2 separate regions of the Homo sapiens genome follow, and region 2 is linked to region 1. The links come from fine-mapping of genetic effects on gene expression. A gene starts in region 1. The other region holds a variant in brackets. All regions are shown on one strand. Distances are between the middles of the regions. Region 1 holds the start of NXPE3 (neurexophilin and PC-esterase domain family member 3). Region 2 overlaps CEP97 (centrosomal protein 97).

Evidence for each region. PIP is the estimated chance that this variant, and not a neighbour inherited with it, causes the effect. A credible set is the group of variants that fine-mapping cannot tell apart.
Region 2: its variant is the best candidate, but not a certain one, in a credible set for the expression of NXPE3 in pancreas (GTEx, PIP 0.51).

The regions. Positions count from the first base shown.
Region 1 is chr3:101,776,249-101,781,495 of GRCh38, reverse strand. NXPE3 (neurexophilin and PC-esterase domain family member 3) reads right to left here and starts at 2,285. Exons shown (of 8, transcript NM_145037.4): 1 at 2,172-2,285. RefSeq lists enhancers at 1,563-1,612, 2,177-2,471 and a silencer at 2,023-2,372.
Region 2 is chr3:101,746,028-101,751,274 of GRCh38, reverse strand. The region is part of intron 6 of CEP97 (centrosomal protein 97); the gene reads right to left. Among named protein-coding and RNA genes, the nearest start is that of CEP97, 24 kb to the right of the region's middle. The variant G/A (reference allele first, on the strand shown) is at 2,384.

The DNA.
Region 1 (5,247 bases):
TATGGCCTGTGACAACAACCCCAGACTGCCATTAGGGTTCCTACCCCCATCTCACAAGAGAATTACAAAGCAGTCACTTACATCATTTGGAATTACAATTGTCAGTAACACAAATGAAATTCCTGAGTTCAATATTAAACAAAGAAAATCAGACAGCAACCCTATCCTCTGGGGAGCTAATGTTCTCAGGCAACCATTCCACAAAGATAATATATTATAGGACAACTGCATAGAAACTGTCCAGTTTCTGAGGCAGTCCCTATCCTAACTACTCTGACCTGTTGGCCAAATAAATGTAACTGTACTAGTCACAGCAAGTGTCTGGAACTTTAGTTCAGAATATATAGTTCAGAACAATAGTAAGAGACAAAAGCACAGATTTACATGGAAAATATCTACACTTAAATGCATATATTTCAAACTTTGCAAAGAGTAGCTGTATTTCATAGGATGCTGAGTAAGACCTTGAAACAGGGCAGGATCTACAGAATGAAGAACTGGAGACCCATCCAGGACCCTAACAATGATGGGTTAACCAAATAGGGTCAATCCTTGAAAAAAGATGAAGCAGGGGCAGTAGTCTGCAGGACTTGTTTCCACAGATTCCATTTCTCCTTCGTGTCCCGCAGCCTCACATGCACAAAGTGCTGACTCATCTGGACCTTCCCTTGCCCTTCTTCCAAAGCAGGGCCCCATGTATTCATGGAGGTTACATAGCAAGTGGAGAAGTAATAAAATCAGTTATATAAGTCACACTGTACTAAGTGCTATTTTTTAAATATTGAACACATTGATAGGTTGTGGTCCTCAACCCTGCATGAACATTAATAATCATCGTGGAAGCTTTTTAAAATACAAACAACTGGGCCCCACTCAAACAATTAAATCAGAATCTGTAGGAATAGGCCCAAGAAGTAGCTTTTTTTAAAAAGGTCCCTAGATGATTACAACATACAGCCAAGTGGGAGAACCACTAGTATAGAGTGGCCAGGGACTGTTATTCGTTTCAGTTGGTAAAAGGATGGCCTTTCCAAAATGATGTTTGAATTGTAACTTAAATTGTCAGGTCAGGACAACCCAATTCCCAGGCAATGGGGAAGGCTAACCCCACTTCAGTGATTTATCCCTTCGTTTCCTTTCTCAGTAACAAATAACAGCACTCTATTGGCCCCAAAGAGATTGTGAGGATAACAGACATGGAAAAAAAAATACTAAACAAATTCAAAGAAAAGCAGAACCCAAACACTACGGAGAAATAGTATACTGCTGCCTCCAAACAATTATCAGGGTCTGGGAGTCCTGCCAGTTTCAAATATATCCTGATGTTCCAAATGATAATTAACCACAGTGAGGAGCGGGGAGGCCCACCAAAGCAGTGTGATTCTTTATCTTTAGGAAATGTGGCAACAATCCCCCTTTAATGTAAATAATGAAAAGCAAAGAAAATTTACAATTTTGCACAAATGCTGCATAAATCCTGCCTCGGAACCCCTCTTATTACCACCCTAGTGGCCTTTGATCAGGCAGAAATGGGCAACAGGCCAGGGTCTCCATATCACACCTTGTAAAGTTACACTCGTTTCTCCCCATACGACCTGAATCTGATGTCCCCAAACGGCAGCTCAGTAAGGCCAGAACAGTCCACCGTGTGACAGCAGCGCCAGCCAAGAGGCAGCTGGTGCCCAGAGCAGCGATGAGCCGAGAGATATGAGATGGGCAGGGAGGCGTCGCCAAGTGCTCCGCACCGGGTTAGTGAAGGTGCCTGGAGGACAGAAGTCTTTCGCTGCGGCGTGGAGGTCCGAACTGTACCGAGCTGTGGCGTTGCCGCAAGTGGAGGAAACTGAGGATGGAGATGCTCGCTCCCGGCCCCGCCCCGCCCCGCCCCGCCGGTACTAGCCTGGGCTCCGGCTTCTTAGCTGCGACGCTTTGGCAACCCAGGGCTCCAATTCTGCCTATGCCTTCGACCCGGGCCTCCCCTCCCTGGCACCTATGCCCACAGCCACGACTCCAGGGGCTGCACCTATCAGCACGGGGCTGGGGACTCGGGAGCAGATGCGCGCGGAGGGAGGGGCTTCGCAGTCTAGGAGCGCGCTGGCAGAGCCGGGCAATGGGTCGCTCCGCCCGCAGCGGCCCCTCCCGACGTCCGCACACAGACCACATCCAGCACTCACCTCCGGGACCCGCCCGCCCTTCGCTCTCCGGGGGCCAGGGATCCTGACGCCCCGGTCGGTCGCCGCAGCGCCAGGCCGCTAGCCCCCCGCTTCCTCACCCGGCGACGTCTCCTCACCTCCGACCCCCGGCTACGATTGGTGGAGCTTCGGCGGGGGCGGGCCGAGGGCGTTGACTGACAGCAGCACGCGCCGGGCGGAACCCACAGGCCTGGAAGCGAAGTTGGCACCCTGGCGCTCTACGCCGCCAAGCTCCTGCTCGCGACGCGACACTGCAGCTGTCGCCCCGCGGATCGAGGTCTGGCCCCTCTCACGACCCAACTCCTCGTGAACTTCGGACGTCTGAGTTTCCTGGGAGCATCCACCTACCTCAAGGCTTTTCGCTTGTCAGCGAAAGTGCCCACAACCGCAGTTGACTCTAGTAGGGCAGTCTTTCCTGTGGAGTGATGGAATTTATTGTGCCCTGAACCAGAGAAATGCGATTTGCCAAGTATAAGCACGGATATAGCGGATCCTTGAATCTTTTCCTTGCTTTGACATTAGTCAACAACTTCTACTCGCCAGTAAAACAGCCCGTTCCTTTTACTCTCACTGTACATGATGTCGGTCTCTTGGCAAAGCATACTTTCCTCACCCTCCACCATCCCCAATTCTGGGTTATCCTATTTTGGACATTTTTCTAACTGGTAAAACGTCGGTAGCAGTTTTGTGAAATTCAGGAACTGAGAGGAGTCCTGAGAAGACACTTGTTCAAGAAACCAGAAGGAATTGTGGGCTGCACCGTGTTTCTCTGTGCTTGGAGCACAGTGGGGTTAACACAGGCCCCAAAAGCAGGCCTGCCCCCGGACTATTACCCCAAGGTTTAAGAAAAATAATTAATGTACATGACAACTAAGTATTTTTCCATTTCTTGACCATAATGGACTCTGCATGCTCATTCAGATGTTTTCATGGCAGGCCTGCTTCGTGGGCAACCAGATCCGTGAATGGGATAAAAGGAAGTTCTGCCACAGGGTGGAAGATCTCTTCTGTAGTAATGATCTTCTTTTTTTTTTTTTTAATATACTTTAAGTTCTAGGGTACATGTGCACAACGTGCAGGTTTGTTACATATGTATACATGTGCCATGTTGGTATGCTGCACCCATTAACTCGTCATTTACATTAAGTATATCTCCTAATGCTATCCCTCCCCCCTCCCCCTACCCCACAACATGCCCAGGTGTGTGATGTTCCCCTTCCTGTGTCCAAGTGTTCATTTATGCAGCCAACAAACACATGAAAAAATGCTCATCAGCACTGGCCATCAGAGAAATGCAAATCAAAACCACAATGAGATACCATCTCACACCAGTTAGAATGGCGATCATTAAAAAGTCAGGAAACAACAGGTGGTGGAGAGGATGTGGAGAAGTAGGAACACGTTTACACTGTTGGTGGGACTGTAAACTAGTTCAACCATTGTAGTAATGATCTGATACTCCTTCTTCCTCGAGGAAATACAGCACTCTGGGACCTTTTGAGGACATAAAAGGGTAGCTTCCTTCTGCTATCGAAGAAGAGCCTCATATACTAGACTTCTGCTCTGATTATGCTTTATCTCCCAGTAGGATCCCCCGCCTCATGTACAGCTTGGCTGTCTTACAAGTGGTAAAATACTTAGGACAAGATGACTTCTAGGTCATGGTTTTGGACCTCATTGACCCCATTCTCCCCCAAGCACTCATAACCCTGAGGCATTTGAGTGATCTTACCTATATTTACCTATATTTTACAGTCATAACCACAAATAAGAGCAGCCACTGCACTCCAGCCTGGGTGACAGAGTGAGGCCCTGTCTCAAAAAATAAAAAAATGTTTATATGATGATATGAAACCAAAGGAACTGGTCATTTCTGCCCCATCTGAAAATGTAGTTTACACACTAGTGTTTATTAATGCTAAACTTGATTCTCTAAGCAAAACAAAGCATAGATCTTAAGAGTAGACAAATAAAAGCAAATAAACCTGTCCCTGATGGCAGAAGCTTGAGGCACAAGCACATTAAGTATTTTTATATTTCTTGACCACAGTGGACTCTGTGTTCATTCAGATGTTTTCACGGAGGCCTACATGCATACTCCTGAGCCCAAGTCAGTTCCTCATTCAGTTCCTTTGCTTCCTCCCTTTGAACAAGTCACTGAAATTTGGGCCCCAAGGCCATCTACCTACTGAAAATTAAGTGACCACTGTCACATTAGGTACCAACCACTCTGTTCCAAAACACCATGAACAATTGGAGGAGGCTGCCAAGGGTAAGAGACTGAAAGTGAGTGAAGTAGTTGATGTCACTACTGCGTTGGTCCATGCTCTCAAATTAATGGACATATTTTCCTTTTAAAAGTCATAATTGGCCAGGCGCGGTGCTCATGCCTGTAATCCCAACACTTTGGGAGGCTGAGGCAGGTGGATCTCCTGAGGTCAGGAGTTTGAGACCAGCCTGGCCAACATGGTGAAACCCCGTCTCTACTAAAAATACAAAAACATTAGCCGGGCATAGTGGCAGGCGCCTGTAATCCCAGCTACTCGGGAGGCTGAGGCAGAAGAATCGCTTGAACTCGGGTGGCGGAGGTTGCAGTGAGCCGAGATCACGCCATTGCACTCCAGCCTGAGCAACAAGAGCGAAACTGTCTCAAAAAAAAAAAAAAGTTATAATTAATGATGGCTAATCTCACATGCATAGTTTAGGGAAAAATGAGATCAATTTTTTTTTCCTCCACTCTTGATTTCTGCAGTTCAGTAGTCCTCAAATCAAATTCCACTGATAATCAAAATAACATCAGTAGCATTTTTTTTTTTTTTTGAGATGGAGTCTCACTCTGTCGCTCAGTCTGGAGTGAGGTGGCAGAATCTCGGCTCACTGCAACCTCCACCTCCCGGGTTCAAGCGATTCTTCTGCCTCAGCCTTGAGAGTAGCTAGAATTACAGGCGTGTACCACCACACCCAGGTAATTTTTTTAATTTTTAGTAGAGACAGGGTTTTTTACCATGTTGGCCACGTTGGTCTCAAACTCCTGGCCTTTCAAGTGATCCACTTGCCT
Region 2 (5,247 bases), 30 kb after region 1:
CTCAGACCACAGTGCAATCAAACTAGAACTCAGGATTAAGAAACTCACTCAAAACCGCTCAACTACATGGTAACTGAACAACCTGCTCCAGATTGACTACTGGGTACATAACGAAATGAAGGCAGAAATAAAGATGTTCTTTGAAACCAACAAGAACAAAGACACAACATACCAGAATCTCTGGCACACATTCAAAGCAGTGTGTAGAGGGAAATTTATAGCACTAAATGCCCACAAGAGAAAGCAGGAAAGATCCAAAATTGACACCCTAACATCACAATTAAAAGAACTAGAAAAGCAAGAGCAAACACATTCAAAAGCTAGCAGAAGGCAAGAAATAACTAACATCAGAGCAGAACTGAAGGAAATAGAGACACAAAAAACCCTTCAAACAATTAATGAATCCAGGAGCTGGTTTTTTGAAAGGATCAACAAAATTGATAGACCACTACCAAGACTAATAAAGAAGAAAAGAGAGAAGAATCAAATAGACACAATAAAAAATGACAAAGGGGATATCACCACCGATCCTACAGAAATACAAACTACCATCAGAGAATACTACAAACACCTCTACGCAAATAAACTAGAAAATCAAGAAGAAATGGATAAATTCCTCGACACATACACCCTCCCAAGGCTAAACCAGGAAGAAGTTGAATCTCTGAACAGACCAATAACAGGCTCTGAAATTGTGGCAATAATCAATACCTTACCAACCAAAAAGAGTCCAGGACCAGATGGATTCACAGCCAAATTCTACCAGAGGTACAAGGAGGAACTGGTACCATTCCTTCTGAAACTATTCCAATCAATAGAAAAAGAGGGAACAAAGCTGGAGGCATCACACTACCTGACTTCAAACTATACTACAAGGCTACAGTAACCAAAACAGCATGGTACTGGTACCAAAACAGAGATATAGATCAATGGAACAGAACAGAGCCCTCAGAAATAACGCCGCATATCTACAACTATCTGATCTTTGACAAACCTGAGAAAAACAAGCAATGGGGAAAGGATTCCCTATTTAATAAATGGTGCTGGGAAAACTGGCTAGCCATATGTAGAAAGCTGAAACTGGATCCCTTCCTTACACCTTATACAAAAATCAATTCAAGATGGATTAAAGACTTAAACGTTAGACCTAAAACCATAAAAACCCTAGAAGAAAACCTAGGCATTACCATTCAGGACATAGGCATGGGCAAGGACTTCATGTCTAAACACCAAAAGCAATGGCAACAGAAGACAAAATTGACAAATGGGATCTCATTAAACTAAAGAGCTTCTGCACAGCAAAAGAAACTACCATCACAGTGAACAGGCAACCTACAAAATGGGAGAAAATTTTCACAACCTACTCATCTGACAAAGGGCTAATATCCAGAATCTACAATGAACTCAAACAAATTTACAAGAAAAAAACAAACAACCCCATCAAAAAGTGGGCAAAGGACATGAACAGACACTTCTCAAAAGAAGACATTTATGCAGCCAAAAAACACATGAAAAAATGCTCACCATCACTGGCCATCAGAGAAATGCAAATCAAAACCACAATGAGATACCACCTCACACCAGTTAGAATGGCAATCATTAAAAAGTCAGGAAACAACAGGTGCTGGAGAGGATGTGGAGAAATAGGAACACTTTTACACTGTTGGTGGGACTGTAAACTAGTTCAACCATTGTGGAAGTCAGTGTGGCGATTCCTCAGGAATCTAGAACTAGAAATACCATTTGACCCAGCCAACCCATTACTGGGTATATACCCAAAGGACTATAAATCATGCTGCTATAAAGACACATGCACACGTATGTTTATTGCAGCACTATTCACAATAGCAAAGACTTGGAACCAACCCAAATGTCCAACAATGATAGACTGGATTAAGAAAATGTGGCACATATACACCATGGAATACTATGCAGCCATAAAAAATGATGAGTTCATGTCCTTTGTAGGGACATGGATGAAATTGGAAATTATCATTCTCAGTAAACTATCACAAGGACAAAAATCCAAACACCGCATGTTCTCACTCATAGGTGGGAATTGAACAATGAGAACACATGGACACAGGAAGGGGACCATCACACTCTGGGGACTGTTGTGGGGTGGGGGGAGGGGGGAGGGATAGCATTAGGAGATATACCTAATGCTAAATGACGAGTTAATGGGTGCCGCACACCAGCATGGCACACGTATACATATGTAACTAACCTGCACGTTGTGCACATGTACCCTAAAACTTAAAGTATAATAACAATAAAATTTAACCAAAAAAGTTTAGTTTATTTAATAAAGATAATTAGAAGTATTCCTTCCATGGGCCGGGCGCAGTGGCTCACACCTGTAATCCCAGCACTTTGGGAGGCC[G/A]AGGTGGGCGGATCATGAGGTCAGGAGATTGAGACCATCCTGGCTAACACGGTGAAACCCCGTCTCTACTAAAAATACAAAAAATTAGCCAGGCGTGGTGGCATGCACCTGTAGTCCCAGCTACTCGGGAGACTGAGGCAGGAGAATGGTATGAACCCAGGAGGCGGAGCTTGCAGTAAGCCGAGATTGCGCCACTGCACTCCAGCCTGGGCAACAGAGTGAGACTCCATCTCAAAAGAAAAAGAAGTATTCTTCCATGGAAACATCCCTGTGGACTAAATCAAAATCATTTAGAATCTTCATGAAATCTGCTCTAAGTCTGCATACATTCTCCTGCCAAACAAATGGCATGTTGAAAGGTTGTACAAAAATAGGTCCAGAGTAGAAGACAATCGCCAACTTTAATATTTCTCAGCAAGCAATATTTCTAAGTTAGAGATGATCTGTACTTTGGGAAGACAGAAAACTGAAACTAAGAGGCTAGAAGAAAGGGCTCAAGTTTGAATATCCCACAGTTTAAGTTTTTGTGAAAAAAAACACAAACTGTAGATCGTCAACTGCTATAAGATCTGATTTTCCACTTTGCTTCACATGAATTCATCAATAAACTTATCCCTACACAAATTATATTAAATCCTACGTAAAAAAAAAACCAAAAACAAAAACTCCCTGTCAATTAAAATACCATTTTCAATTAAAAAAAAAATTAAGACTCATTCAGCTCTAACATATTAATCTTTTTTTTTTTTTTTTTTTTTTTTTGAGACAAGGTCTCTCTGCCACCCAGGCTGGAGTGCAATGGCACTATCATGGCTCACTGCAGCCTCAAACTGCTGGGCTCACTCAATCCTCCCACCTCAGCCTCCCAAGTAGCTGAAACTACAGGTATGCACCAGCATACCCAGCTAATTTTTTCATTTTTTATTTTTTTTTTAGAGATGGGGACTCACTATGCTGCCCAGTCTGGTCTTGAACTGCTGACTTCAAGTGATCCTCCTGTGTTGACCTTCCCAGGCACTAAGATTACAGGCATGAGCCACCATGCCTGGCCTCTAACATATTAATTTCAAGTCATTGCATTATGATTCCACTCTTGAAAGTGAAGGAACTGTTTACTTAAAACAAGAGAAGTAACAACTATTAAGAAAGGGAACTTAAAACAACCTGCTCTGTCTCTTTAAAAAAAAAAAAAATGTAATACCAGCTACTAGGGTGGCAGAGGCAGGAGAATTGCTTGAACCAAGGAGGCAGAGGTTGCAGTGAGCCGAGATCGCACCACTGCACTCCAGCCTGGGCAACAAGAGCGAAACTGTCTCAAAAAAAAAAAAAGGAAGGCCAGGCGCGGTGGCTCACGCCTGTAATCCCAAAACTTTGGGAGGCTGAGGTGGGCGGATCACAAGGTCAGGAGATCGAGACCATCCTGGCTAACACAGTGAAACCCCATCTCTACTAAAAACACAAAAAATTAGCCGGGCGTGGTGGCAGGCGCCTATAGTCCCAGCTACTCGGGAGGCTGAGGCAGGAGAATGGCCAGAATACGGGAGGCAGAGCTTGCAGTGAGCCGAGATCGTGCCACTGCACTCCAACCTGGGCGACAGAGTGAGATTCCGTCTCAAAAAAAAAAAAAAAAAAAGGAGTTCTGAATAAAAGGGTATCTGATATTTGCTTTTAAAATGCTCCAACAGCATGATTTATAGTCCTTTGGGTATATACCCAGTAATGGGATGGCTGGGTCAAATGTTATTTCTAGTTCTAGATTCCTGAGGAATCGCCACACTGACTTCCACAATGGTTGAACTAGTTTACAGTCCCACCAACAGTGTAAAAGTGTTCCTGTTTCTCCACATCCTCTCCAGCACCTGTTGTTTCCTGACTTTTTAATGATTGCCATTCTAACTGGTGTGAGATGGTATCTCATTGTGGTTTTGATTTGCATTTCTCTGATGGCCAGTGATGGTGAGCATTTTTTCATGTGTTTTTTGGCTGCATAAATGTCTTCTTTTGAGAAGTGTCTGTTCATGTCCTTTGCCCACTTTTTGATGGGGTTGTTTGTTTTTTTCTTGTAAATTTGTTTGAGTTCATTGTAGATTCTGGATATTAGCCCTTTGTCAGGTGAGTAGGTTGCAAAAATTTTCTCCCATTTTGTAGGTTGCCTGTTGACTCTGATGGTAGTTTCTTTTGCTGTGCAGAAGGTCTTTAGTTTAATGAGATCCCATTTGTCAATTTTATCTTTTGTTGCCATTGCTTTTGGTGTTTTAGACATGAAGTCCTTGCCCATGCCTATGTCCTGAATGGTAATGCCTAGGTTTTCTTCTAGGGTTTTTATGGTTTTAGGTCTAACGTTTAAGTCTTTAATCCATCTTGAATTGATTTTTGTATAAGGTGTAAGGAAGGGATCCAGTTTCAGCTTTCTACATATGGCTAGCCAGTTTTCCCAGCACCATTTATTAAATAGGGAATCCTTTCCCCATTGCTTGTTTTTCTCAGGTTTGTCAAAGATCAGATAGTTGTAGATATGCGGCGTTATTTCTGAGGGCTCTGTTCTGTTCCATTGATCTATATCTCTGTTTTGGTATCAGTACCATGCTGTTTTGGTTACTGTAGCCTTGTAGTATAGTTTAAAGTCAGGTAGTGTGATGCTATAAATCATGCTGCTATAAAGACACATGCACACATATGTTTATTGTGGCATTATTCACAATAGCAAAGACTTGGAACCAACCCAAATGTCCAACAATGATAGACTGGATTAAGAAAATGTGGCACATATACACCATGGAATACTATGCAGCCATAAAAAATAATGAGTTCATGTCCTTTGTAGGGACATGGATGAAATTGGAAATCATCATTTTCAGTAAACT